7 linked regions of the Homo sapiens genome follow. The protein of the gene in region 7 interacts with the protein of the main gene of each other region in a pairwise test. Each region holds a gene or a part of one and is shown on either strand. Other genes may lie near its edges. The genes, in order: HEATR1, LEPR, EXOSC10, ANGPTL6, CTSB, STAM2 and XRN1.

Region 1 (3,500 bases), on a different chromosome or scaffold from region 7:
TAGTTTTTAAAAATACACACCGCTGAACTCTAGGAATCATTTGAAAATGGCACATCTCTTTCCTGTGTTATTGGTAGAATCACATGGGTCCGTTTATGAGCATCTTGCAAGAGCATATTGGGGTGATGAAGAAGGAAGAGCTCACCTCCCATCAGTCTCAGCTAACCGCCTTTTTCCTGGAAGCCCTGGACTTCCGAGCCCAGCACTCTGAGGTAAGCTCAGGTTCACTCCTCCAAATCCTAAAGCTGTTATCCACCTATTGAAGAGTCCGAGAACAATCTAGCCGTGTAACAGTGGTACTTGCCAAAATAATTTACAGTCAGGTATCAGCACTCTAATAAATGGGCTCTTCTGTTTTCAGAACGATCTGGAGGAAGTTGGAAAAACGGAAAATTGTATCATTGACTGTCTAGTAGCCATGGTTGTCAAACTTTCCGAGGTCACATTCAGGCCCCTGTTCTTCAAGGTGACGCTTTCTTCCTCTTCCTCTCTTTTGTGCTCAGATTTAAGTGACAAGATGTCGAAGAAACTAATACTGTCTTATCCTTTCAGCTGTTTGATTGGGCTAAAACAGAAGATGCCCCAAAGGACAGGTTGTTGACATTTTACAACTTGGCAGATTGCATTGCTGAAAAGCTGAAAGGGCTTTTTACTCTGTTTGCCGGCCACTTAGTGAAGCCTTTTGCTGACACCTTGAACCAGGTGAACATCTCCAAAACAGGTGGGTGGTCGCTTCAGTTCAGCTGTCACCCTTGCCCTGTGTGCCTTATACAAGGTACCAGTAAGACACAACCTAGTGCTTGGAAGCAAGATTTTAGAGGTTCTTAAGTCCTAAGCTAAGGAGGGTGAATTTTTTACTTCATTGTTGTCAGACAGTGAAGTGTTGTTTTAGCATCATGAGCGAATGTTATAAGTCACCTCACTTGGGAGAAAGAATAAAGTAAATGGCCGTTACTGTCAGTTACTGGAAGTAACTTTAAAACGCAAAAATTAAGATTAGTTTATTCTCTAATGCTAATACGTGACCCACTTGACAGTTGAGGGAATTTAACTTGCCAGAGTGAGTGTTAGAATCTTAACTCTAAAAGAAGGAATCATTCTTCGAGAGACCATCCATTGTGTTCTGCCTTCGTCCTGATTATGATTTCTAGATCATTTTAGACTCTTCTGATTTAGTTATTTTAATAGTGATTTCAATGTAAACATTGGAGATTAAATGGTTAAGTTCAGTGTTTTTTCATTTTTACTCTTCCCACGTCTACAGATGAAGCATTTTTTGACTCTGAAAATGACCCTGAAAAGTGCTGCTTGCTGTTGCAGTTTATTTTGAACTGTTTATACAAAATCTTCCTTTTTGATACCCAGCATTTTATAAGTAAAGAGAGAGCAGAAGCCTTGATGATGCCTCTGGTGGATCAGGTAACCAAACAGAATCATCTTTCGTTGCTGAGGAAGCCATCACTGTTCGAGCTTGGCAGGTTTTAGATCTGCTCAAATGACAGCTTGCTAGGATTTTTCTTTGTAAGGTTGTTTTTTCTGGTCTTTTTAATGAAATGTTTTATTTGAAAATTGTTTTTTCAAAGATATAACTTCATTGTGGAATTTGAGTTTTGTTTTGTTGTTTTGAGACAGGGTCTTGCTCTGTCACCCAGGCTGGAGTGCAGTGGTGCAATCTCGGCTCGCTGCAACCTCCACCTCCCGGTTTCAAGCAATTCTTGTGCCTCAGCCTCCCGAATAGCTGGGATCACAGGCGCCCGCCTCCACACCTGGCTAATTTTTGTATTTTTAGTAGGGATGAGGTTTTGCCATGTTGGCCAGGCTGGTCTCGAACTCCTGACCTCAAGTGATCCACCCACCTTGGCCTCCCAAACTGCTGGGATTACAGGCGTGAGCCACCATGCCTGGCCCTGAGTTATTTTTTATTTTTTATTTTTTAAACTGCTCAAAAGACAGACATGATATAAGCTGTCATGGTTAATGTATTCATTTGTTTTAACTGGGCCTCACTGAGAACGCGTCAGAGCATGGCTGTCCTCTGGAGCAAAGAGCTCCTCTGAGATGTTCTGCTGGAGAGAAAGGGGCGATGATAAAGGGTATGAGATTCCATTTGAGTTCTAGAAGGCAATACATTTGCCCTAGAGAGTATTAGAATAATGCCTGGTTTTTGAACCTGCTAATATCATGAAAGATAGTAAAATATTTGTATGTTGGATATTTTTTCAAACAGAAGAAAGAAATGAGACTTGTTGTTCAAAGTCTTTGTCTTACTCTTCCTAGCTGGAAAACAGGCTTGGGGGAGAAGAGAAATTCCAGGAACGGGTGACAAAGCACCTGATACCATGCATCGCACAGTTTTCGGTGGCCATGGCGGATGACTCTCTTTGGAAACCACTGAACTACCAGATTCTGCTAAAGACGAGAGACTCCTCGCCTAAGGTTAGGAACTGCGTGACAAGTACTGAAACTGCATCTTTTCACTGCATAGCCTAAACAGCCTGCAGGTGGTCACAGATGTAGGCCCCCTAGTAAACTGGCAGGGAAGAACATTGCTATTTGTCATCCAGTACTAGAGGTCCGGTCTTTTGTATTAGGCAGAAATTTGTGCCTAAGAAAATTTTGTTTTTTACTTACAGGCTATTTGTAAAGAATAGCAATGCCCTATCCCCACCCCAATGGTGCGTTGGGCAGAAGTACTAAAATACTTTCTAAATACTTTTAAATAACAAAGATTTGAAGTAATTCCTTCTTTTTTAAGTGCCATTGAAATGTCATTGTGCTCCAGAGAGAAATGCATTGAATTTATCCACACTATAGTCTTTTGAGTTAGAGCAATACATTCTGTTGTTTATAGATACTAGGCTTATGATCTTGTTGAGTAAGTGGTGGCAGTGGAAATAAAACATGGGTAGGTTGAGTGGAAGTCAAAATTTGACACCCAAGTGTTACGAATTTCAAACTGTTTTAGCAATGAGTCACCATTTCTCAAACTAATGATTGTATTAGAACTTTACTGGCTATAACAGACCAAAGCAGAATTTTATTAATAGGATTTATTAGTTCAAATTCTTTATTAGGATATGCTAACAATGAGACTATTATGATGAACCCCCACATTTTAAACCATAGGTTTTTATACAAGTAGCAGTATCAAATTTATTGTAATATTTTACTTTGCACAAATCAAGGAAATCCTGATTGAATCTAGGTAGTTACAAATGGTTTTTTAATAATTCACTTTGTACTGTCCAGATATTCTTTAATTAAAATATCCAAAATTAGAAGACCAGTAGGGCTTTTGTTTCAAAAGCTAACAATACCCAACTACTGCTTGCTTTCCTTATTATAGACAAGGCATGTGAGGAACACCTAGACGTTTTTAAAGCCCCAAAACTAGGATATTGTGACACAGAATGTTTTTTATTCAGTGCTGAGATGGGAGTTTATCCCAAGCGACTGTCCTGGCCCCTCATACAATTATAGTGGTGACCAGTCAGGGGCTG
Region 2 (3,500 bases), on a different chromosome or scaffold from region 7:
GATTGTCTCAGCTACATCCCTGCTAGTAGACAGTATACTTCCTGGGTCTTCGTATGAGGTTCAGGTGAGGGGCAAGAGACTGGATGGCCCAGGAATCTGGAGTGACTGGAGTACTCCTCGTGTCTTTACCACACAAGGTAGGTTATGTAATAGCCACTTCTACTGGGAGGGAAATATATTTCCTGAACTTGCCTTTGTATAGTATAAGCATCTTACATTTTGAGGCCTTAAAATGAAAGGAGGAACACAGTATCAACTTCCTTGTTTAAACTTTGAACAGGCCAATTTGTGAATTAAAATTCTGTCAGAGCCTCTAGGCTTGTGTGTTTCTATTGCAGTATATTGTAGGATCACTTTTCCTATTAAAAAGAAAAAATTAATATAACAGCTCCAAATTAACAAACTCAGAAAGCCATTTGTATTGATAATTCCTTAATTTACATTTTAAAACCAAGCATATTTATTTGACATAAAATTCAAATATTAACATTTTACTTTATATTATATAATAAATGAATTATTTTTACTCCAGATGCTTGCTTTTGAGAGTTTTCAGTGCCAATGTTCATATTTTAAAGGTTATTTTTAGCATCGGAACATCTACAGTTCATTCACAGCTTCTTCATGCAGCTGATGCGCAAAGTTTTGCATAGAGGCTCCAGAGGCTTGGAATGGTCCTAGACCTGTTGCATGCAAAGTTGGGACTATAGAAAGACAATAGTCCTTTGGCTGGTTGTCCGATCTGTCAAAAGGGCAAAATTTTTCTTGTTCAGACTTACTGAGATTGATTATGGCCTGTACAGAGATAACAGGTACCATGCAAATATCAATCCATTTAACAAGTTTACTTGTTGATTGCTTACTATTTTAAAAGCATTGATTCGTCAAAAGGCAAGTAGCAATAGTAGTTTAAGACATTGACTTCGGAGTCCAACAGAAGTTTATAGGAGTTCTGGCTCCACCACTTATTTGGAAAGTTTCTTAACCTTTCTATGCCTTAATTTCCTTATCTGTAAAATAGGGATGTTTTACATGGATATGAAATATCCATATAAAATTAAATAATGAAATGAAATAATTAACATTGGTCATGTGAAGAAAACCATTATTGTTTTCTTATTCTGCAAATTAAAAATTGCATAGTATGTCATATGCAGATAAAATGTGTATCTATATTATTAAAATTTTGCAAATTAAATATTCAATATCTCATATCAATTTCAATAAATTTATCCAGTGTAAATTTCACAAATTGTCAGGTTTTTATTAACTTAGTTTTCTTATTTTAAGCTAATATTTTAGCATCTAATCATGTAAAAATACTATGACTTTAATCTTATTTCTCAGTTAAGCCTTACTATATGTATTTGATTTCAAAGTGAAATGCTTTGAATTTTCTTGTCATCTTTAAAATGAAAAACTTCAGCTTAATCCATGAAAACTCAATTATATTTTTTATTTTTAAATAAGAATTATTCTGAGACTTTTGAGGCAGTTGAGTAAGGAGGTTGTGGCGCATACTGAAGGTAGGTTAAGATAGGTTAATGTACTAGGTACTTGTCCACAGTAAGTAATGTACAAGTGAAGCTTGAGTGCCACCTCGGCTAGGATTATACTCAGTCACGCTCATAAATCTAATGGTCTGGCTCCTGTGCAGTAATTTTATGCTACTAAGTTTTTTCCTGTTTCTATTTGATTATGGACATACAAAACACAAATGTTTTGTATGAATTGTAAATATATAGACATTGACGTTTACCATGCTATTACAGAATAAAGAAAACTTAATAAAAACCAATTAAAGTATTTTTGTTTCTGTTTTTAAGGGTAATCCCAAGATATGTGTGAAAACAAATTTTCATAGTCTATCAACAGAAAATGGTTTACCTTAACTTTACAACTGAAATGTACTGACGTTTTTGCAGTGCACTGTGGTGGAAATAATTTCTTCCTATGTAAACCATCATTTACTTGTATCTCGCATGTCTTTGAAAATGATAGGCAAATGAAATTTACAACAACAGAGGACTTTAAAAATAGTATAGAATCATGTGTAGGCATTAAAAAAATCATGTTTTAGGAAAATATCGCTTCCCTTTACCCTCATCCATAGGATATTGGCATTAAATAACTCAAAATGATAGTACAAACCAGTATTTCCCATTTTCTCTGCTTTGTATATTGCTGCATTATCATTCATACGACATTCCTATTTTTTAATTTATATCTCGTATCTTTACCTACTTACTTGAAATTTTTATGTATCCAAACAAGACAATAGCGGCAATCATTTTTACTTCAGGATTTGGCTTCATAGTGATTTGCTTTAAGAACTTGTCCTAGTTTCACTGATTCCCAAAGCAGGGTCTGTTGGAAAATATGTCATTGTTGAATTAAGCTATATTTTGTTTTAGTCACTTTCCTGCCTATCAGTTAGCAAGTGACAATTACTGGCTAAAACATATTTTATGATGAATAAGCCTCTGTGTTTAGAAGATAGTAAAGACATTCATGGAAGCTCAACTCACTTTAGAATGAGAGCACTCGGGACACTAGATAACTGTACACAAACAGGTAATTTCAGCATTATCCAGTTTTTAAATTACACTCATTTTATTTTTGGCAGTGTAACTCTGGAATGTGTTGTGAATATTTTTCGATGTGGTACAAATTACTTACAGAATGTTTTGTCTTCATCTGATATCCTTTCTTCCCTCATTACAGATGTCATATACTTTCCACCTAAAATTCTGACAAGTGTTGGGTCTAATGTTTCTTTTCACTGCATCTATAAGAAGGAAAACAAGATTGTTCCCTCAAAAGAGATTGTTTGGTGGATGAATTTAGCTGAGAAAATTCCTCAAAGCCAGTATGATGTTGTGAGTGATCATGTTAGCAAAGTTACTTTTTTCAATCTGAATGAAACCAAACCTCGAGGAAAGTTTACCTATGATGCAGTGTACTGCTGCAATGAACATGAATGCCATCATCGCTATGCTGAATTATATGTGATTGGTAAGAAAACAGAGGTTTTGTTCATTTTGTTCCACAACTTGAATTTTCATTATGGACCCTCCTTATATTAGAGTCCTGTTAAAGATGTAAGAAAAAATTTTTTTCATTGAATTTTTTGGAGTTTTTGCTTTATATTAATATTTTAATATGTTTCAAATAGATGTCAATATCAATATCTCATGTGAAACTGATGGGTACTTAACTAAAATGACTTGCAGATGGTCAACCAGTACAATCCAGTCACTTGCGGAAAGCACTTTGCAATTGAGGTATCATAGGTACGTATTATTTTTGCTGTTTTGTTTTTCTGTGGGCACAGTGAGATAAAAATTTTCTTTAGAAATATTACAACAGTAGTCTTACAGATTATTTGCTTCCTGAAAGAGGAAAGTATAATATAATGAATCAGGAAATTTTTGAGGGATTATATAAATTGGTGATTCTTGAAAAATATTCACACCTGAGATTAAAAAATTGTAATTTGT
Region 3 (3,500 bases), on a different chromosome or scaffold from region 7:
CGTCTGCTTTAAAGTGCAAAATAGATGAGGACTCCCTGCAGTTTCATTCTAAATAGTGTACTTCTATATTTAATGTATGCAGTCCAGGGACTTCTTAGTTATTTTAGTGGCCACATTACACTGTTAAATCATATTAGAATTTTCAGCCCAATTCAGAGCTTTAAAGAGTCAATCGAGTATTGGGCATGGGTAATTACTGTCCTACCTGCCTTTGAGCAAATAATGCATTAATTACTTGGCATGACATACTAATGACCTTTATTGATCAACTTTGTAAAATTTTTATTTTTTTATTGACAAAAATTGTATAGGCGATCATTTACATGGTTATGTCTCAATAAACCTATATTATAAGTCAAAAATGCATTTAATACACCTCACTTACCAAATAGCTTAACTGAACCTGCTTTAAATGTGCTCAGAAAACTTCCATTAGTCTACAGTTGGGCAAAATCTTACACAAAGCCTATTTTTATAATACAGTGTTGAATATTCATCTCATGTAATTCAAGTAGCATTGAATACACTTCTGAAAGTGAAAAACAGGTTGTGGCCGGGCACAGTAGCTCATGCCTGTAATCCTAGCATTTTGGGAGGCCAAGGCAGGTGGATCACTTGAGGTCAAGAGTTCAAGACCAGCTTGGTCAACATAGTGAAACCCCATCTCTACTAAAAAATACAAAAATTAGCTGGGCGTGGTGGCGTGCACCTGTAGTCCCAGATACTCGGGAGGCTGAGGCATGAGAATTGCTTGAACCCAGGAGGCGAAGACTGCAGCAAGCTGAGATTGGACCACTGCACTCCAGCCTGGGCAACAGAGTGAGACTCCCTCTCAAAAAAAAAAAAAAGAAAAACAGGGCCAGGCACAGTGGCTTACGCCTGTAATCCTAGCACTTTGGGAGGTCGAGGCAGGCAGCTCACAAGGTCAAGAGATCGAGACCATCCTGGCCAACCTGGTGAAACCCTGTCTCTACTAAAAATACAAAAATTAGCTGGGCGTGGTGGTGCATGCCTGTAGTCCCAATTACTTGGGAGGCTGAGGCAGGAGAATCGCTTGAACCCGGGAGGCAGGTTGCAATTAGCTGAGATCACGCCATTACACTTCAGCCTGGCAACAGAGCAAGACTCTGTCTCAAAAAAGAAAAAAGAAAAACAGGTGGTAAGTGTACTTGAAATATGGATTCTACTAAATGCAAATCACTTTCACATCATTGTAAACTCAAAAACTTACAAGTCAAACTGTCATACATTGGGGACCATCTATATATTTATTACATACAACTTGATGTTTTGATACATACATTGATCTGTTCTTATATATGTATATTTTCTTACACAAATGTCTCTGAATACCAATCTCTTTAAAATGTTAGGTAATTAGGTGGGGCACGGTGGCTCACGCCTATAATCCCAGCATTTTGGGAGGCTCAGGTGGGCGGATCACTTGAGGTCAGGAGTTCGAGACCAGCCTGGCCAACCGGGTGAAACCCCATCTCTACTAAAAATAAAAAATTAGCCAGGTATGGTGGTGCACACCTGTAATCCCAGCTACTCGGGAGGCTGAGGCAGGAGAATCGCTTGAACCCTGGAGGCAGAGGTTGCAGTGAGCCCAATTCAGAACTGTAAAGAGTTGCAGTGAGGCAAGATTGCGCCACTGCACTCCAGCCTGGGTGACAGAGTGATACTCCATGTTAAATAAATAAAATGTTAGGTAGTTAACTCTGCTAACCTCAAAAGGAAAAATGCTTAACCAGTACCTCTTCTACTCTTAGGGTATTTTACTGGATGAAGCCTCAGGTGTAAACAAGAATCAACAGCCTGTCCTCCCTGCCGGCTTGCAGGTCCCCAAAACGGTAGTGTCCAGCTGGAACCGTAAGGTGAGGGCTTTTCAGATTAACTAGAGCTCTTGATGTCAGCTTCATAACAGAGATTTTGCTCATTCTAACATGCATTTCTGTTCTAATTTATTAGAGAACTGGCCACTGTCTCCTTTAGTTTGTTCTCATAAACATACACAAACTAATTACACCCTCTTCTTCTCTTTCTGGAGACCTCTACATGCACATACATTCTTAAATGAATGAATGACCTTTGCGATGTTCTTGTCTCCTCAGAAGTCATAAATTGGAATTTACTTTTCTAATTCATCAAGTTGCTGTGTTATAAAGTATTTGTATTCATTGATCATAGGCAGCAGAATATGGCAAAAAAGCAAAATCTGAAACTTTCCGGCTGCTTCATGCAAAAAATATCATCCGACCTCAGCTCAAGTTTCGAGAGAAGATTGACAATTCCAACACACCATTTCTTCCTAAAATCTTCATCAAACCCAATGCTCAGAAACCTCTCCCTCAAGGTAAATAGTGCATACTTTGCCTGTGTTTGAGTCTCACTTTATTTGATGCAAAAACCAGGAAGGGTGTACAGGTCTCTCTTCTTTGTTCAAAGGGAGCCCACCCTCCTTTGTTCAAAGGGAGCCCAGTTCAGCTATTCCAGAGGCTGAAGTGGGAGGATCACTTGAGCCCAGGAGGTCAAGGCTACAGTGAGCTGTGCTTGTGCCACCACACTTCAGCCTGGGGGACAGAACATGACCCTGTCTCAAAAAAAAAAGCCAAAAAACAAAGGGAACCAGTTTACCCCTGTGTAATTAGAAAAGACATGAATGTGCTAATGATGTTTTTGTCACTGCTGGGATCCCCAGCTCTCTCTAAGGAAAGGCGGGAACGCCCACAGGATCGTCCTGAGGACTTGGACGTCCCCCCTGCACTGGCTGATTTCATCCATCAGCAGAGAACCCAGCAGGTTGAGCAAGACATGTAAGTGTTGGCCTGTGTCTGACTTTCTGCCGTGAGTACTTACCTTTTTGCCACATTTTCACTTTTGTGGAGTATATACATGAAAACAATCTGAGGAGTAGTGATTTCCTCCTTACACCCCAACCTGGGCCTTAGCAATAAAACCTGCTGTTTGTGTTCACAAAGGGCCTACACAGCATTGCCTCATGTAAACCTCACTGCAGTCCTGAGAAGTAGCAGTTGCTCTTATTCCCATTTTATAGATGTAAAACACGAAGGCTGGGCGCGGTGGCTTACGCCTGTAATCCCAGCACTTTGGGAGGCTGAGACCGGTGGATCACCTGAGGTCAGGAGTTCGAGACCAGCCTGGCCAACATGGTGAAACCCCATCTCTACTGAAAATACAAAAATTAGCCAGGCGAGGTGGTGTGTGCCTGTAATCCCAGCTACTCGGGAGGCTGAGGCAGGAGAATCGCTTGAACTTGGGAGGTGGAGGTTGCAGTGAGCCAAGATGGCGTCACTGCACTCCAGCCTGAGTGATAGAGTAAGACTCCATCTCAAAAAAAAAAAAAAAAAAAGATGTAAAAGCAAAATTAGAGATGCAGGCTTCTTGTAGAGTTGGAACTTCTTTGAGACAGGGTCTTGCTCTGTCGCCCAGACTGGAGTGTGGTGGCATGAACACAGCTCACTACAGCCTTTACCTCC
Region 4 (3,500 bases), on a different chromosome or scaffold from region 7:
GCGGCTTCGGTAGTGGCCGCCGTGGTGCCACACACCGTTGAGGTTGGAGTGGGCACAGGCATGGTACCACCAGCCTCCCCGCTGGTACAGGGCACAGTTACCTGAGGGGAGAGAGAGAGTCCATGTCCTCTCACCAGAATAAAAGCCTCTACCTGCACCTCACAGTGCAAGGCTTTTGCCAGGCATCCCCTGGCCCCTCCCATTCTTATTGAATACAAGCCCTGATCTTCCATCTCCTCAGCAAAAAAATAGGAGCCCTGGCCCCCCAACTTTCTTCAGAGTAATAGCCTTAATTCCTTCCCTATCTCCTTACCAAAGTACAAGTCACATCTTTCCCACCTTTTCTGCAAACTAGGAGTCTACCGTTCATTCCTTTATCAAAGAAAAGTATCTACTTCCTTTCTAGAATAAGAGTACTAGCTCTCACCCTCTGCCCTTTACTTGAACAGGAGTCTTGATTCTTTTTTTGCCTCATCAGAGAAGGAATCTGGACTCCCCATCCCCCCACCAGGATAAAAGTCCTGACCTTTGTTCTCTTGACGGAATAAAAGCTTGCTTATCCTTATACTTACCAGAGGGGCGTCTTACCTACCCTACCTCCTTTCATTCCCTCACCAGAACAGGAGTCCCGCCTCCCCTATCCTCTCACCAGAATAGGAGTTCTCCTTACCAGAATAGGAGTCTCGGTCCCTATCCACGGTGCTGAAGGGCTTGTCATTGTGCCAGGAAAGAGAGTCTCCAGCATCACCATGGTACTGGCCAAGCCGCAGGCGGTAGTGGTCGCTCTCGGGTTCCAGGGAGAAGCCATCATAGTGGGCACGTGCTCCACGGCCCCCCCAGTCCTCCAGGAGAACCAGCAGCTCATGGTCCCCACGGCTGGTCAGCTGATACACGGGTTCAAGGCCCAGCCAGTATTCTCCGTCTGGCCGCCCAAAGCCCGCCTGGCAGGGCAGGAAAGTCAGGAAGCCAGAACAGGCTCCCTCCCCTTCCCTGCCTCTGCCCACCTGTGCCCACCTTATAGTGCTGCCAGGTAGTGAAGAAGTTGACTGAACCATCTTGCCTCCGCTGGATCACAGTCCAGCCTCCACCCTCCAGTTGCTGCTCACACCATACTGACACTACGTGACGGCCCACTCGCAGTTCATACACTCCACTCTGTTCATGGCCTGCCTGGCGGGCCTCTGCACAATCCTGCCACGGGCCTGTGGGCACAGGGATAGGGGGGAGGCACAGCCTGGGCTGACCAATCCCTTACTGGAGCAAGAGTCAAGATTCTCACAGGTCCTCTCACCAGAATAAGAGTTCTGCCTCTCCCACTTTTCTACCAAAGAGTCCTGCCTCTCCCATTTCCTCACCAGAATAAGAGGCCTGCCTCTCCCATTTCCTCACCAGAATCCGAGCTCCAATAGCCATTTCTTTACCTAAGAATCTGGGTCCCTTGTCTCTAATCAAAGGAAATGTCAAGTCTGGGGTTCTTTTTTTTTTTGAGATGGAGTCTCGCTCTGTCACTCAGGCTGGAGTGCAGTGGTGCGATCTCGGCTCACTGCAACCTCATCCTCCCAGGTTCACGCCTTTCTCCTGCCTCAGCCTCCCGAGCAGCTGGGACTACAGGCGCCCGCCACCACGCCCAGCTAATTTTTTGTATTTTTAGTAGAAATGGGGTTTCACCGTGTTAGCCAGGATGGTCTTGATCTCCTGACCTCGTGATCCACCCGCCTCGGCCTCCCAAAGTGCTGGGATTACAGGCATGAGCCATCGCGCCCGGCCAACTCTGGGGTTCTTAAACCCTGGTTTTTTATGGTCTCCTCACCATAATATAAGTCCTGAATATGATACTCTGAACCAGTTCAAACTCTTACCAAAGTAGCAGTCCCAAACATCGCCTCACTAAAGTAAGAGTCCCTCCTCTTCTATTTCTTGTTTCTCCTATTTTCACACCTTAGAAGTTTGGTCTTATTTTTAATCAGAATAGGAGTATCATTTCTTCTGGTCTTCTCACAATGAGAGAAATCTGCCACTAAAATCCTGACTCCTCAATTTTCCTCTACCCACAATTCCTCAGCCCTAATGTCGACTTACCCACAGGCTTGGTGGGGACCGCAGGGTGACCTGCAGGCATGGGAGAAGCCATGGGCTCCTGCTGTCTCTGGGTCTGGTCTCTCTGGGGCTCTGGGGCTGGGTCCAGCATCCTACTGGTGTCACTGGTGCTACCCACAAGACGGACCGGAACCACAGGCACCAGTGGGGGTGGCGGCAGGACCTGGGGTGACGGAGAAAGTCAGGTGTAATTGCACTAACCCTCAGGCCAGGAGGCCTGGTCTCAGGGGCAGAAATGGTGGATAAATCTCCCAGCTCCCAAATGACCTGGACATCTGGCAGTGGGGGTGTCCCAGCCCTAGGAATGATCCTCCCCAAAAGCTAAACAACTTGGCTTTAAAGTGCAGACAGGCTGGGCGCTATGGCCCGTGCCTGTAATCCCAGCACTTTGGGAGGCCGAGGCGGGCGGATCACCTGAGGTCAGGAGTTCGAGACCAGCCTGACCAACATGGTGAAACCTCCGTCTCTACTAAAAATACAAAAAAAATTAACTGAGTGTGTTGGCTCACGCCTGTAATGCCAGCTACTCGGAAGGTTGAGGTAGGAGGATCGCTTGAACCTGGGAGGTGGAGGTTGCAGTGAGCCAAGATTGCACCACTGCACTCCAGCCTGGGAGACAGAGCGAGACTCCATCTCAAAAATAAAATTAAAAAAATAAAGTGCAGACAGAGCTGGGCTTAAATACCGGCTCTTGGTGCTCATGGTTTAATTGATCTGTGCCCCAGCCTCCTCTGTAGAGTAGGGATAATAACAACACATCCAACAGTATCTAACTTACTGACTCCTCTCACCAACCCTGTAACGTAGGGACTGTCACAGAGCAACATTCTCTTATCCCAAACCCAGACCAGGACACGTTCCAGAATTCAGAATAACACGGCTGGATTTAGACACAGTGACACAGGGAGGGTTATGTATATGCATGTGTGTATAGAATATACATAACACTCCTAAAGGGGTTTTTGGTCTTTACGTGATAATGATATGTTTAATTATAGGATCCTATGACTATTCACATTAAGTGGTTAAGTGAAGGCTATAAATAGCCACCAGTCACTTTTTGACCCAAATAAGTTACCAGAAGGGGCGAGTAGGAATCCGGTTTTCAGGGTTTTGCGGATTTCAGAACTGTGGATAAGAGATCGTGGGGTTGCAAAACCCCCATTTCACAGACGATGCTGCTCTCCGGGGAGGCTGCGAGGTTACCTGCTGCTGCCCGCCCGCGCCTCCCGGGCACAGGCGCTCCAGGCGGGCGATGAGACTGCTCTGCTGGGTGACGAGCTGCGCCAGCTCGCGGAACTTGACGTCCAGCTGGTGGAACCGGGCGGCTGCGCGCTGAGCCTCGGCGGACGCGTTGAGCACGCGCTCCCCGAGCAGCGCCAGCGCCGCGGCAGGCTCCGCCC
Region 5 (3,500 bases), on a different chromosome or scaffold from region 7:
GAGCCTTGGGGTCCCGGAACTCTAGGATAGAGGAGGGGGAGTGATGCCCTCTTGCCAGGAGAAGCAGCACACTCTCCACTTTCTGCCTGTTCCACCCTGAACTCAGCCTCAGCCCTTCCAAACTGGAAGGGACCAAAGCCCTCCTTTTACAAGGGAGTGGCGTGTCCTGGAGTCTTGAGGTATCCTGGCCTCTTCCGGGGCCTCGTGCTCATTGCTCCGTTCTCCCATTTCTGAGCTTCCAGCCCCAGCCCTGTCCTTAGTTCTTCAGGGGAGCCTTCCTTGAGCTCCCCTGGCAGGGCAAGTCCCCTTAGATGCAGTCTTCCCCTGGAGGCCACCAGAAATCAGTGACTGGCTGACCGTGGCGTGCCACGAGGCACGGTCACTGCCCTCCCCAACCCCGAGCTCGGTTCATTTTCCAGGATACAATTCCTACAGCGTCTCCAATAGCGAGAAGGACATCATGGCCGAGATCTACAAAAACGGCCCCGTGGAGGGAGCTTTCTCTGTGTATTCGGACTTCCTGCTCTACAAGTCAGGTGCGTGCTGATGGCTGATGGCAATAGAGGGTGGGGGTCGGGAGGGGAGCCTGGGTGCCAGGATGGTTCATGTTGACCAATAGGGCTGGATTGGGCAGGCAGGTGAGGGGCTGGGGAAGAGGGCTGTGTGGGGCCTTCCATATAGGCTCACTCCTCTGTGGACCAGCCTGGCACCTGACTGTCTTTGTCCAGGTGTTGTGCCAACACACACAATTCCAGAGGCCTCTCCCAGAGCCTCTGGGCTAGTTCCTTCCCATCCATTAGCGTCCAGCTCATACATGTTCTCTGTGGGAACGCCCCCCTCCCTGGTGGCTGGCCACGCCTGCCCTCGCCTTCCTGGCTTTGCATTGCTTTACCAGCATGTTTCTGTTATAATGGCAGGCCGTTCGTGTTTGCACTGGCTGACACATTTTCTTCATCTTTCTCTTTGCAAAGGCCTAGATCGTGCCTCACACCAGTGGATGAACACACAGGGAGGACCTTGCCCTGGGTAGTGCCATAGGGACTCCAACCAAGGAATCTGGACAGTCCCCATCCCCAAGTCCTGTCTTAGAAATCCCTTGCTCCAGATGAACAGTCTTTGCTGACTGCATCTATCCCATTAATATTTTGCTAGATTGGAAACTTGTAAAACAACAGTTTGACAAAGGAAGATGATTCTGGCAAGAAAAAGTTTCTGTGAAGATGGCACTTCTTAGCATAGTCCTCGCCCTTATTATTAAAAGATGCATTTCCACTTTGACAGTGATTTCCCCACCCGAGAGCCTGGTTGGGCAGCCCTGAGCCCCTTAGCCAGTATCTTTCCCATCAGCTAGCATTAGCTGCCACCAGTCCTCCCTTCTCCTCCCTCACCTCTTCAGGGTGTACCTGGAGCAGCTATTAAAACTCTTTAAGCCGTGTAACGCTTTTGACAAACCCTTACTTACATGGAATCCCAGTATAAAGAACAGATGAATCAGTCATCTAGCATTAAATGTTTTATCAATTAGAATGTATTAGAAATTCTATTTTTAAAGCCAACAAGCACATTTTGTAGGAATCTATTTCAATATTTACTCAACAACTTTGAGTGTGTTGGGCCTTCAAAAATATATTTAATTCCCCAGTATTGTGGGACCCCCCCTGGAGCCTCCTGGTGGAGCAGCAGGTTCCCTCTGGAAGCTGTTTCTCCTTCCCGGAGCATGACCAGCTGAGTGTGGGGGGTGCTGTGGGGCGTGGGACAGTGGCCCGGTCTCGGTCTCAGCCAGTTCTTCCCTTTTCAGGAGTGTACCAACACGTCACCGGAGAGATGATGGGTGGCCATGCCATCCGCATCCTGGGCTGGGGAGTGGAGAATGGCACACCCTACTGGCTGGTTGCCAACTCCTGGAACACTGACTGGGGTGACAATGGTGAGTGGCTGCCCCCTTCCTGCCAAGAACAGTGAATTGTGAGCCACACCCCGTGGCCATCTCGGCTTTCTCTGTTCTACCCACCGCACAGCCTTAAACCCTGGACCTACGGCCAGGCTGTGAGCTCCTCCTAAGTGCCAGGCAGTCAGGAGTTCCCTTTTGCTGTGAGGGCAGACTCTGAGCAGCTTCAGAGCCAACGCCTGCAACAGTTCCCACAGCATCGCGCCAGATCCTGTGATGGGAAGGGTGACCGGGCAGGGGGCTTGCCCGTGGAGGTGTGCCCCACGGCTCCAGAAGCCTTGTGGTGTTGAGGACTGTGCTAGTGGGCCAACAGCAGGAGTGGCCAGGGATGAGTGACTTAAGGTCTTTTAAGGATGAGTCTGACTATATTGGTTGACCCTTGTCACACTTTAAAAGCACCTTACTTTTTATTCCCAGGCTTCTTTAAAATACTCAGAGGACAGGATCACTGTGGAATCGAATCAGAAGTGGTGGCTGGAATTCCACGCACCGATCAGTACTGGGAAAAGATCTAATCTGCCGTGGGCCTGTCGTGCCAGTCCTGGGGGCGAGATCGGGGTAGAAATGCATTTTATTCTTTAAGTTCACGTAAGATACAAGTTTCAGACAGGGTCTGAAGGACTGGATTGGCCAAACATCAGACCTGTCTTCCAAGGAGACCAAGTCCTGGCTACATCCCAGCCTGTGGTTACAGTGCAGACAGGCCATGTGAGCCACCGCTGCCAGCACAGAGCGTCCTTCCCCCTGTAGACTAGTGCCGTAGGGAGTACCTGCTGCCCCAGCTGACTGTGGCCCCCTCCGTGATCCATCCATCTCCAGGGAGCAAGACAGAGACGCAGGAATGGAAAGCGGAGTTCCTAACAGGATGAAAGTTCCCCCATCAGTTCCCCCAGTACCTCCAAGCAAGTAGCTTTCCACATTTGTCACAGAAATCAGAGGAGAGACGGTGTTGGGAGCCCTTTGGAGAACGCCAGTCTCCCAGGCCCCCTGCATCTATCGAGTTTGCAATGTCACAACCTCTCTGATCTTGTGCTCAGCATGATTCTTTAATAGAAGTTTTATTTTTTCGTGCACTCTGCTAATCATGTGGGTGAGCCAGTGGAACAGCGGGAGACCTGTGCTAGTTTTACAGATTGCCTCCTTATGACGCGGCTCAAAAGGAAACCAAGTGGTCAGGAGTTGTTTCTGACCCACTGATCTCTACTACCACAAGGAAAATAGTTTAGGAGAAACCAGCTTTTACTGTTTTTGAAAAATTACAGCTTCACCCTGTCAAGTTAACAAGGAATGCCTGTGCCAATAAAAGTTTTCTCCAACTTGAAGTCTACTCTGATGGGATCTCAGATCCTTTGTCACTGCCTATAGACTTGTAGCTGCTGTCTCTCTTTGTCCCTGCAGAGAATCACGTCCTGGAACTGCATGTTCTTGCGACTCTTGGGACTTCATCTTAACTTCTCGCTGCCCCAGCCATGTTTTCAACCATGGCATCCCTCCCCCAATTAGTTCCCTGTCATCCTCGTCAACCTTCTCTGTAAGTGCCTGGTAAGCTTGC
Region 6 (3,500 bases), on a different chromosome or scaffold from region 7:
CAAAAATATTAAATGCAAAATTACAGATAACAATACATACATTTTAAATAACTTTTATTAGAGTATATTGTTACAACTCTTTCATCTTATTAGTTCTGCTGTTAAGTGCCAAATTCATAAACTTTATCATAGGGATATGTATGCATAGGAAAACAAACAGTATATATAAGGTTCAGTACTATCTGCGGTTTCAGGCATCCACTGGGGATCTTGCAAATGTATCCACCACAGATAAGGGCGGGGGTGAGGGGTGGCTACTGTTAAGTCACATTGTGACATTCCAGGTGTACATGAAATTTGGAGGGACACTATTCACTATATCACACAAGCAACATAATGCCTCTTTTGACACAGTAAGATTTTAAAAAAAAGACTCTCAAACTTTAATTCAGCTTGATAAAATTAGAATTCTTCTTCTGGGGAATTTTCTTTTTGAGACAGGATCTCATTCTGTCAGGCCGGAGTGCAGTGGCGTGATCACACCTCACTGCAGCCTCAAGCAATACTCCCACCTCAGCCTACTGACTAGCTGGGACTACAGGTGCACTACCACACCTGGCTAAGTTTTAAAATTTTTGTAGAGATAGGGTCTTGCCATGTTGCCAGGTTGGTCTCAAACTCCTAGCCTCAAGCAATACTCCTATCTCAGGCTCCCAAAGTGCTGGGATTATAGGCATGAGCCACTGTATCTGGCCTCTGGGGAAAACTTTTAGAAATATACTTTTAATTTTTGAAAGAAAATTAAACCAAACAAAAATCAAATCCCTAAAACTGAGTATTCCCATTTACTAACTGGCTAAAACTGATGATGAAAGAAGAAAAAGTACCTTCCGATAGAAATAAAGCATTATAGATCAGTGCTATTTATAATTTATTACTTATCAAAGTAACTCCAGCTTTCTTATAGCAATTCAATAAGCCCTCTCCTAGAACTCAGGGGCTTTTAAATTTATGTTTTTACTAAGAAAACCTTTTTAAAAAAAATCCCTAAGCTATATGTTTTTAAAACATTTAAAATTGATTTTTTAAATTTTGAAAGTGAAATTATAACCATCTTCAAAACATACAGTAAAATGTATTACGTAGACAAGTATCAATTATTTCAAACAGCATGACAATTTAACTACAAATAATTTCAAATCCTAACAAATATAATTACCTAATGTTTAAGTAATTTTATAAATAAATTACCAAATTAGAAGACAGTATTGGTTGACTACATTTTACAAACTATAAGAATATATCCCACACTTCATATATTTTAACACCCTGGGGTATTTTTCTGCATTAATAAAATTCATTCTATTATAAATTTTCAGGAATTCTTTCTGATGTACCAAGATTTCATATGAAAAAGCAGAAGCTATTTTTTTATTTCTGATATAAAACAGTAAGTATGAACCCAATGTAGAAATCTGAAGTTAGACAATTCCCTTTGGCAGAAAACAATTATAAACAGGTCTTAATATAAATAGAATCCATAAGCCCATAAAAAGGGAAGTACACAACCCTGTGTTTCTTAACACCGAAAGAATCATCAGTACACAGATTTAAAATCATTTTTATCTCTCGACAGCCTGCAACACAAAATTACATATGGCAAAAAATAATTTTTAACTTGAGAAAGAAAAAAACTTCTGCACATATAAACTTTCACCGATGTGCCAATATATACTATATATTTATATATATATATATGTGTCATGTTTTATTATTCTAAAACTACATTATTTATAATGGCTGATCCCAATTTAGTGGGTGTGCAGTAATTATATTGGCTCAAAGACATGCTGAATTAAACTTTTATAATTGAGATCACAATTATACATGAAATACACAAACATTAAAATAAGTTTATTAAATAGAGTTTGGGAGAAAAAAAGTAAGAAATTCCATATATATGCAAATGTTGACTATTATCGAGAGCAGCTTTGGATTTTTTTTAAATGTTTTTTAAAAATTATTATTTTGTAAATAACAGAAGATTTGTTTCCAAAAAGTAAGGTGCCATTCAGAAGTATATAATTGAATTAACATAAAGGAAAATACTGAATAAAAAACAGAACATGAGATATTAAAGGTTAAAACTTTCTGTTCAGTTATTTGTATCTGAAGTTAAGACAATGACATAAACTGAGCTTTCAAATACTGCTAATTTTTCCACTTAAATGTAGATCAAGTACCATATAGACTATTTTGTTCTAGAATAAAGTTTCTTTGAAAAAGGAACATATTTATAATCAAATTTCTGTAGATAAATGGCAAAATTTTCAGAGAACTAGCTTGAAATGGATTTAGTAGAAAGAATGACTGCTTCCTTTAAAAAAACAAATATAGAAATCTTGCTTCCACGTAACTTTTTAAAAACTAATGTCCATTGTTTTTCCCAATCTGAATATGTTTCCATACATGTATGTATTTGCAATTTCTATTTTCCAATATGTAAAAAGTTGGTAGACAATGAAGTAGTGTGCAAATTTTTAGGAGAGAAAACAATCCCTACTGGTTTACTACCAAACTCTCACAGTTATATAGAATCTATTAGCACTATAAACTAACTCAAAATGCAGGCTTCAGAAAAACTGCTTCAATAGCCTCCCTATCAATCTGTCGCCTTCTATGAAGTCTTCACCTGCTATTATTCCACAGGCTGAGAATTACTTCTGAAAGAAATGGTCAATTTTTTCAACAGCTTGGTATGTTGACAGCTTAGCAACGGTACTTGAATCACCTCTTTAAAAAAACAACACACCACTAAAAACACACTTATCATCCATGCTTGGTATATCTCACAACAAATTATTAGGAATGTCTCATGGTTCAAATTCACACGCAATCCCATAAAAAGGATATGCAGCATCTCTGCACACCACATTGCAGGAAGAAAAACAAATGGACCATATCTTCATTAGAGAATAGCCAAAATCACTTGAAAAGGTTATTAGTGACAATTCTAAATACCAGAGATACATGTAGGAAAGAAAATGTTTTTCCTCAGGGAATGGAAATGTTTTGTGGGACATTCCTTCACAGTTGGCATGACTGTTTGGGGGACTGACTAAATGCTTTATCACACATCTGCATTTACAAGGTCTTCACTGTTAATCACAGAAAACATTTTTGTTCCTTCCAGATTGCTCTTGCTTCTGTAGACAATTATATGCTAATTATTATTCAACATAACAGTGAGAGCAAAAGTGACAATACTGCAAACACAACCGCAATTTAAGGAGCCAAAAAGAAATATGCTGGCAAGCTAAATGCTTACACACAAAAAAGTTAGACTTTTAAAGTGTGTGAGAAACTCTGAAAAAAATATTTCAAGTTCTTCAGTGCTCTTATGACATTTTAGGGGGAAACAGTGGTTTCTTTAAAATAATATTTTAATCCTCCTATCTCATACTGTTTATAAGTATGAGATACTTTTGACAAACTCACTCTGTCGATCATGCTACTGCACTCCAGCCTGGGTGACAGAGCGAGTTTGTCATAAGTATCTC
Region 7 (3,500 bases):
TTACCATAAGTAGAAATAAAAGGAAGTGCTTCCTAAATAAGACTCTAGTAGAATGAATCATTATAAAAAGACAAAACTTTATTTTTGTTTTTATTCTCTCACCAGCTCCAGGACTGAACTCCATGATAGTAATAGTGCAAAATCCACTGTATTGCCTGAACATAACATGCAGCTTGATCAGCCAGAAAGTCACTGAAAATAGAATATTTTCATTATAACATATTTTCTGAAGACAGGCCCGTGTCTTTAGAGCACGGTATCTGCTGATACAACATTTTACCTCAGATGATTTATTTAATCAATGAATTAGCTATTTATGGCTAAAAATTATAATCCTAAAAACTCCAAAATATTTTTAAAAATTACATCCTGTCACATGACAGTTTTCCTAAACCAACTATCAAAATAGATAAGTCTGTTATTCATATTTACTCAGTTAATGTACCACTCCCTTGGTCCAAAGGTTGAAGATTTACCCAATGAAGCTTTCCATAGTGACACTACCACTCTCTTAAATAGTGGGGGTGAGACGGGAGAAAGGGATGGGAATCTTCTTTACATGGGATGATATCTGAGAGAAGCAAAGCAGCAAATCAGGAAGATCTTAAAATTTGGTCACAGAAGCTAGAATGCTTTCAGAAGTGCTGTATGTGAACAATATTCCTTCTAATCCTTTCTTTGTCAAAAACCAAATGCCATCTTCTAAGTTTGGGTAAAATAAGTCTTCAAATCATCAAAACAAAACAAAACAGAGCCCTGGGCTAAAGGCAAAAATATTCACTTAGAAATTACATAACTACATATTTCTGGGAGGTAGTTTTTTAATATGAAAAATATTGCTTTTTTATTATAAAAGAACTATTTCCTCAGGAGTGAAAATCTGGACAATGAAGAACAGCATTTTTATCATCTTATAGCCATCACTTTTACATTTTTAGTGTTTCAGTCTTTTATCTATATCTAGGTTTTTTTAAGGTTAATGAGAGCATACTGTATGTATGATTTCATGTCTTGCCTTTACAATTTGTACTTAATAATGTACTATAAGCATCCTTCCAAATTGTTATGAACTTTCTGCAAGTACCAGTTTAGCAGTTCTGCAGATTCCGGAGATGGAAGAGGTGACAGAGATGGTGACTGTAATGAAGAAGCAGTGGCCAATTATGATGAACCTTCTTATTGGACATTTAGATTATTTCTAATTTTTTTACTATTATAAACAACTTTGTAACAAAAATCCTTATACATAAGGATCATTTTCTCTTCAGCAATTTTTATCACAGGAATATAATACAAGTCAGAATTAATACCATCTTCTCCAAAACCAGACTAGTTGAAACATACACAATAATTCATGAAACCAAAAAATCCTTTTTCTCCCACTACTTCATCAAAATCATATTTTCTGAATAACTGCAAAATCTAATTTTTTCTATTTTAAAATAAAAGCATTGGCAAAAACGTACTCAGATACTACGTCAACCCCCATCTTCGTCATGTAATATGTTCTTTTATATTGTCTAAACTCAGTTTCAAATAGGTCATCATCTTCAGTCTCATCTTCTAAATTATCTGGGGAAAAAAGTCAGAAAGATAGTGACTGACAATTATGAATAGCCTGTTTTTCCACCTAATGATTTGATAAATGCATATCCAAGTTGATGCTTATATGCTATCACAGAAATCTGTTCCACCCAAAATTAGTAATAATAAATAAAAGGTATAACAATTATCCTGTCAAAGTAGTAACATATCAAAACACATACTTCATACTTACCCTTAGAAGTTATCATTTCGCCTTCATTTTTGTCTAAAGCAGTCCAACACAGAGAATTTTCCTGGCCCTGTAAATTGTAAATCAACATAAAATGAATGGCAAGATACATTTCAAAATGAGATGTCATTTCTCTTCCATGCACCCATTTGCTTTTCTATAGTTCTTCCATGTTATAACATCCTTCATATCCTGCCCATCTGTTTTTCCTCCCTTGTGATCTCAATCCTTTCTCTCCTCTATTCTCTGATTTCCTGTCTACTGCCAATGACTCTCTTTAGTTCTTCCTACTCCCTTATCCCCATTTCCTTTCTTTCATCCAACTTATGGCCTCTACCAACTTCCTGTGTCTGGGCTATTCCTGCACAGTGTCTCTAAAGTTAGCTGCATATGGCTGGAAGACTGGTGAAGTTTAAGTACTGAATTGTGGTGGGGGAGCCAGGGATTACTGACAGGTAAGTTTTGTGTGTACAGGTTCCCAAAAAGTTGCAGAGCCCGTTTTCTTAGGGGGGGAAAAAAAAAGACACACACACACACACAAAAACCAGTGGAATGCAGACTGACTGCTGCCAAGTTCCAGTGAGGAAGAGCTAAGCAGCGAGAAGGACTACACTAGAGAAAACAAGGACAGTTGCCCCTCCTGGAGCAAGAGTCATTAAGTTTGAACCTAAATAGAACCAGTACAGCAAGGAGAGTAAGAAGCTCAACAGAATCTTGGCCGGGCACGGTGGCTCACGCCTGTAATCCCAGGACTTAAGGGAGGCCAAGGTGGGCAGATCACGAGGTCAGGAGTTCGAGACCAGCATTACCAACATAGTGAAACCCCGTCTCTACTAAAAATACAAAAATTAGCTGGGTGGTGGCGCGCACCTCTAATCCCAGGTACTCAGGAGGCTGAGGCAGGGGAATTCAAGCGAACCCAGGAGGTAGAGGTTGCAGTGAGCCAAGATCGCGCCACTGCACTCCAGCCTGAGTGACAGAGTGACATGCTGTCTCCAAAAAAAAAAAAAAGAAACTCAGCAGAATCCAATAATTACAGAGAGGCTGAAGAATTTTTCACAAGAGGTTTACTTTTCAAGTTAACACAAGACATTCTTTGGAGATTATCAGAGATGCTCTGCAGGGTACTATCATATTCTAATTGATTCTATTATTCATTTATTAAGCACATAACATTTACTAGATATTGTGCTATTAGGCTGGCACAAAAGTAATTGTGGTTTTTGCCATTACTATTAACTTAGACTATTGTATTTTATATGTAAATCATTTCTAGAGAAAAATCACTGATCTAGTTAATGTCTCATATCATTAAACACTATAAATATCCACATTTTAAAAACTAGTCCATTGTTTTAAAATAACAATTTTTTTTTAATTAAAAAAAAATTGCCAGGGGAAAGTGTGAATGCAGTCCTCCACTACCATAAGTCACGCAGTTCAGTTTCCCACATTTGGCGAAATCGCAGGGCATCAGCACATCCAGAGTGCAATGGATAAACCTCGCCCTGGGAAAACTACCTTCATGATCATGGTATCCTCCCTGTCAGGTTTTAAATAATTGTTTTTCTTTTTTATGAGACAGAGTCTCACTCTATCAGCCAGGCTGGAGTGCAGTGGCTCAGTCTTGGCTCACTGCAACCTCTGTCTCCCAGGTTCAAGTGATTCTCGTGCCTCAGCCTCCCAAGTAGCTGGGATTACAGGTGTGTGCCACCACATCCAACTA

The links.
Region 1: the proteins of XRN1 (region 7) and HEATR1 interact in a two-hybrid assay, tested with the Homo sapiens proteins (one large-scale study listed by BioGRID and IntAct).
Region 2: the proteins of XRN1 (region 7) and LEPR interact in a two-hybrid assay, tested with the Homo sapiens proteins (one large-scale study listed by BioGRID).
Region 3: the proteins of XRN1 (region 7) and EXOSC10 interact in a two-hybrid assay, tested with the Homo sapiens proteins (one large-scale study listed by BioGRID).
Region 4: the proteins of XRN1 (region 7) and ANGPTL6 interact in a two-hybrid assay, tested with the Homo sapiens proteins (one large-scale study listed by BioGRID).
Region 5: the proteins of XRN1 (region 7) and CTSB interact in a two-hybrid assay, tested with the Homo sapiens proteins (one large-scale study listed by BioGRID).
Region 6: the proteins of XRN1 (region 7) and STAM2 interact in a two-hybrid assay, tested with the Homo sapiens proteins (one large-scale study listed by BioGRID and IntAct).

The regions. Positions count from the first base shown.
Region 1 is NC_000001.11:236,552,517-236,556,016, reverse strand, and holds part of HEATR1 (HEAT repeat-containing protein 1), read left to right. Parts: intron 1-77; coding exon 78-212; intron 213-361; coding exon 362-466; intron 467-552; coding exon 553-721; intron 722-1,264; coding exon 1,265-1,419; intron 1,420-2,277; coding exon 2,278-2,436; intron 2,437-3,035; exon of another isoform or gene 3,036-3,500. UniProt on the Homo sapiens protein: Ribosome biogenesis factor; required for recruitment of Myc to nucleoli. Involved in nucleolar processing of pre-18S ribosomal RNA. Required for optimal pre-ribosomal RNA transcription by RNA polymerase I.
Region 2 is NC_000001.11:65,598,668-65,602,167, forward strand, and holds part of LEPR (leptin receptor isoform 1 precursor), read left to right. Parts: coding exon 1-137; intron 138-2,724; coding exon 2,725-3,015; intron 3,016-3,175; coding exon 3,176-3,293; intron 3,294-3,500. UniProt on the Homo sapiens protein: Receptor for hormone LEP/leptin. On ligand binding, mediates LEP central and peripheral effects through the activation of different signaling pathways such as JAK2/STAT3 and MAPK cascade/FOS.
Region 3 is NC_000001.11:11,089,870-11,093,369, reverse strand, and holds part of EXOSC10 (exosome complex component 10), read left to right. Parts: intron 1-1,772; coding exon 1,773-1,877; intron 1,878-2,190; coding exon 2,191-2,356; intron 2,357-2,701; coding exon 2,702-2,816; intron 2,817-3,500. UniProt on the Homo sapiens protein: Catalytic component of the RNA exosome complex which has 3'->5' exoribonuclease activity and participates in a multitude of cellular RNA processing and degradation events.
Region 4 is NC_000019.10:10,092,679-10,096,178, forward strand, and holds part of ANGPTL6 (angiopoietin-related protein 6 precursor), read right to left. Parts: coding exon 3,304-3,500; intron 2,261-3,303; coding exon 2,080-2,260; intron 1,203-2,079; coding exon 1,015-1,202; intron 942-1,014; coding exon 671-941; intron 566-670; exon of another isoform or gene 102-565; coding exon 1-101. UniProt on the Homo sapiens protein: May play a role in the wound healing process. May promote epidermal proliferation, remodeling and regeneration. May promote the chemotactic activity of endothelial cells and induce neovascularization.
Region 5 is NC_000008.11:11,844,088-11,847,587, reverse strand, and holds part of CTSB (cathepsin B isoform 1 preproprotein), read left to right. Parts: intron 1-419; coding exon 420-536; intron 537-1,798; coding exon 1,799-1,927; intron 1,928-2,365; coding exon 2,366-2,463; 3' UTR 2,464-3,500. UniProt on the Homo sapiens protein: Thiol protease which is believed to participate in intracellular degradation and turnover of proteins. Cleaves matrix extracellular phosphoglycoprotein MEPE. Involved in the solubilization of cross-linked TG/thyroglobulin in the thyroid follicle lumen.
Region 6 is NC_000002.12:152,116,764-152,120,263, forward strand, and holds the end of STAM2 (signal transducing adapter molecule 2), read right to left. Parts: 3' UTR 38-3,500; downstream 1-37.
Region 7 is NC_000003.12:142,417,038-142,420,537, forward strand, and holds part of XRN1 (5'-3' exoribonuclease 1), read right to left. Parts: intron 1,845-3,500; coding exon 1,778-1,844; intron 1,573-1,777; coding exon 1,467-1,572; coding exon of another isoform or gene 1,433-1,466; exon of another isoform or gene 804-1,432; intron 193-803; coding exon 103-192; intron 1-102. UniProt on the Homo sapiens protein: Major 5'-3' exoribonuclease involved in mRNA decay. Required for the 5'-3'-processing of the G4 tetraplex-containing DNA and RNA substrates. The kinetic of hydrolysis is faster for G4 RNA tetraplex than for G4 DNA tetraplex and monomeric RNA tetraplex.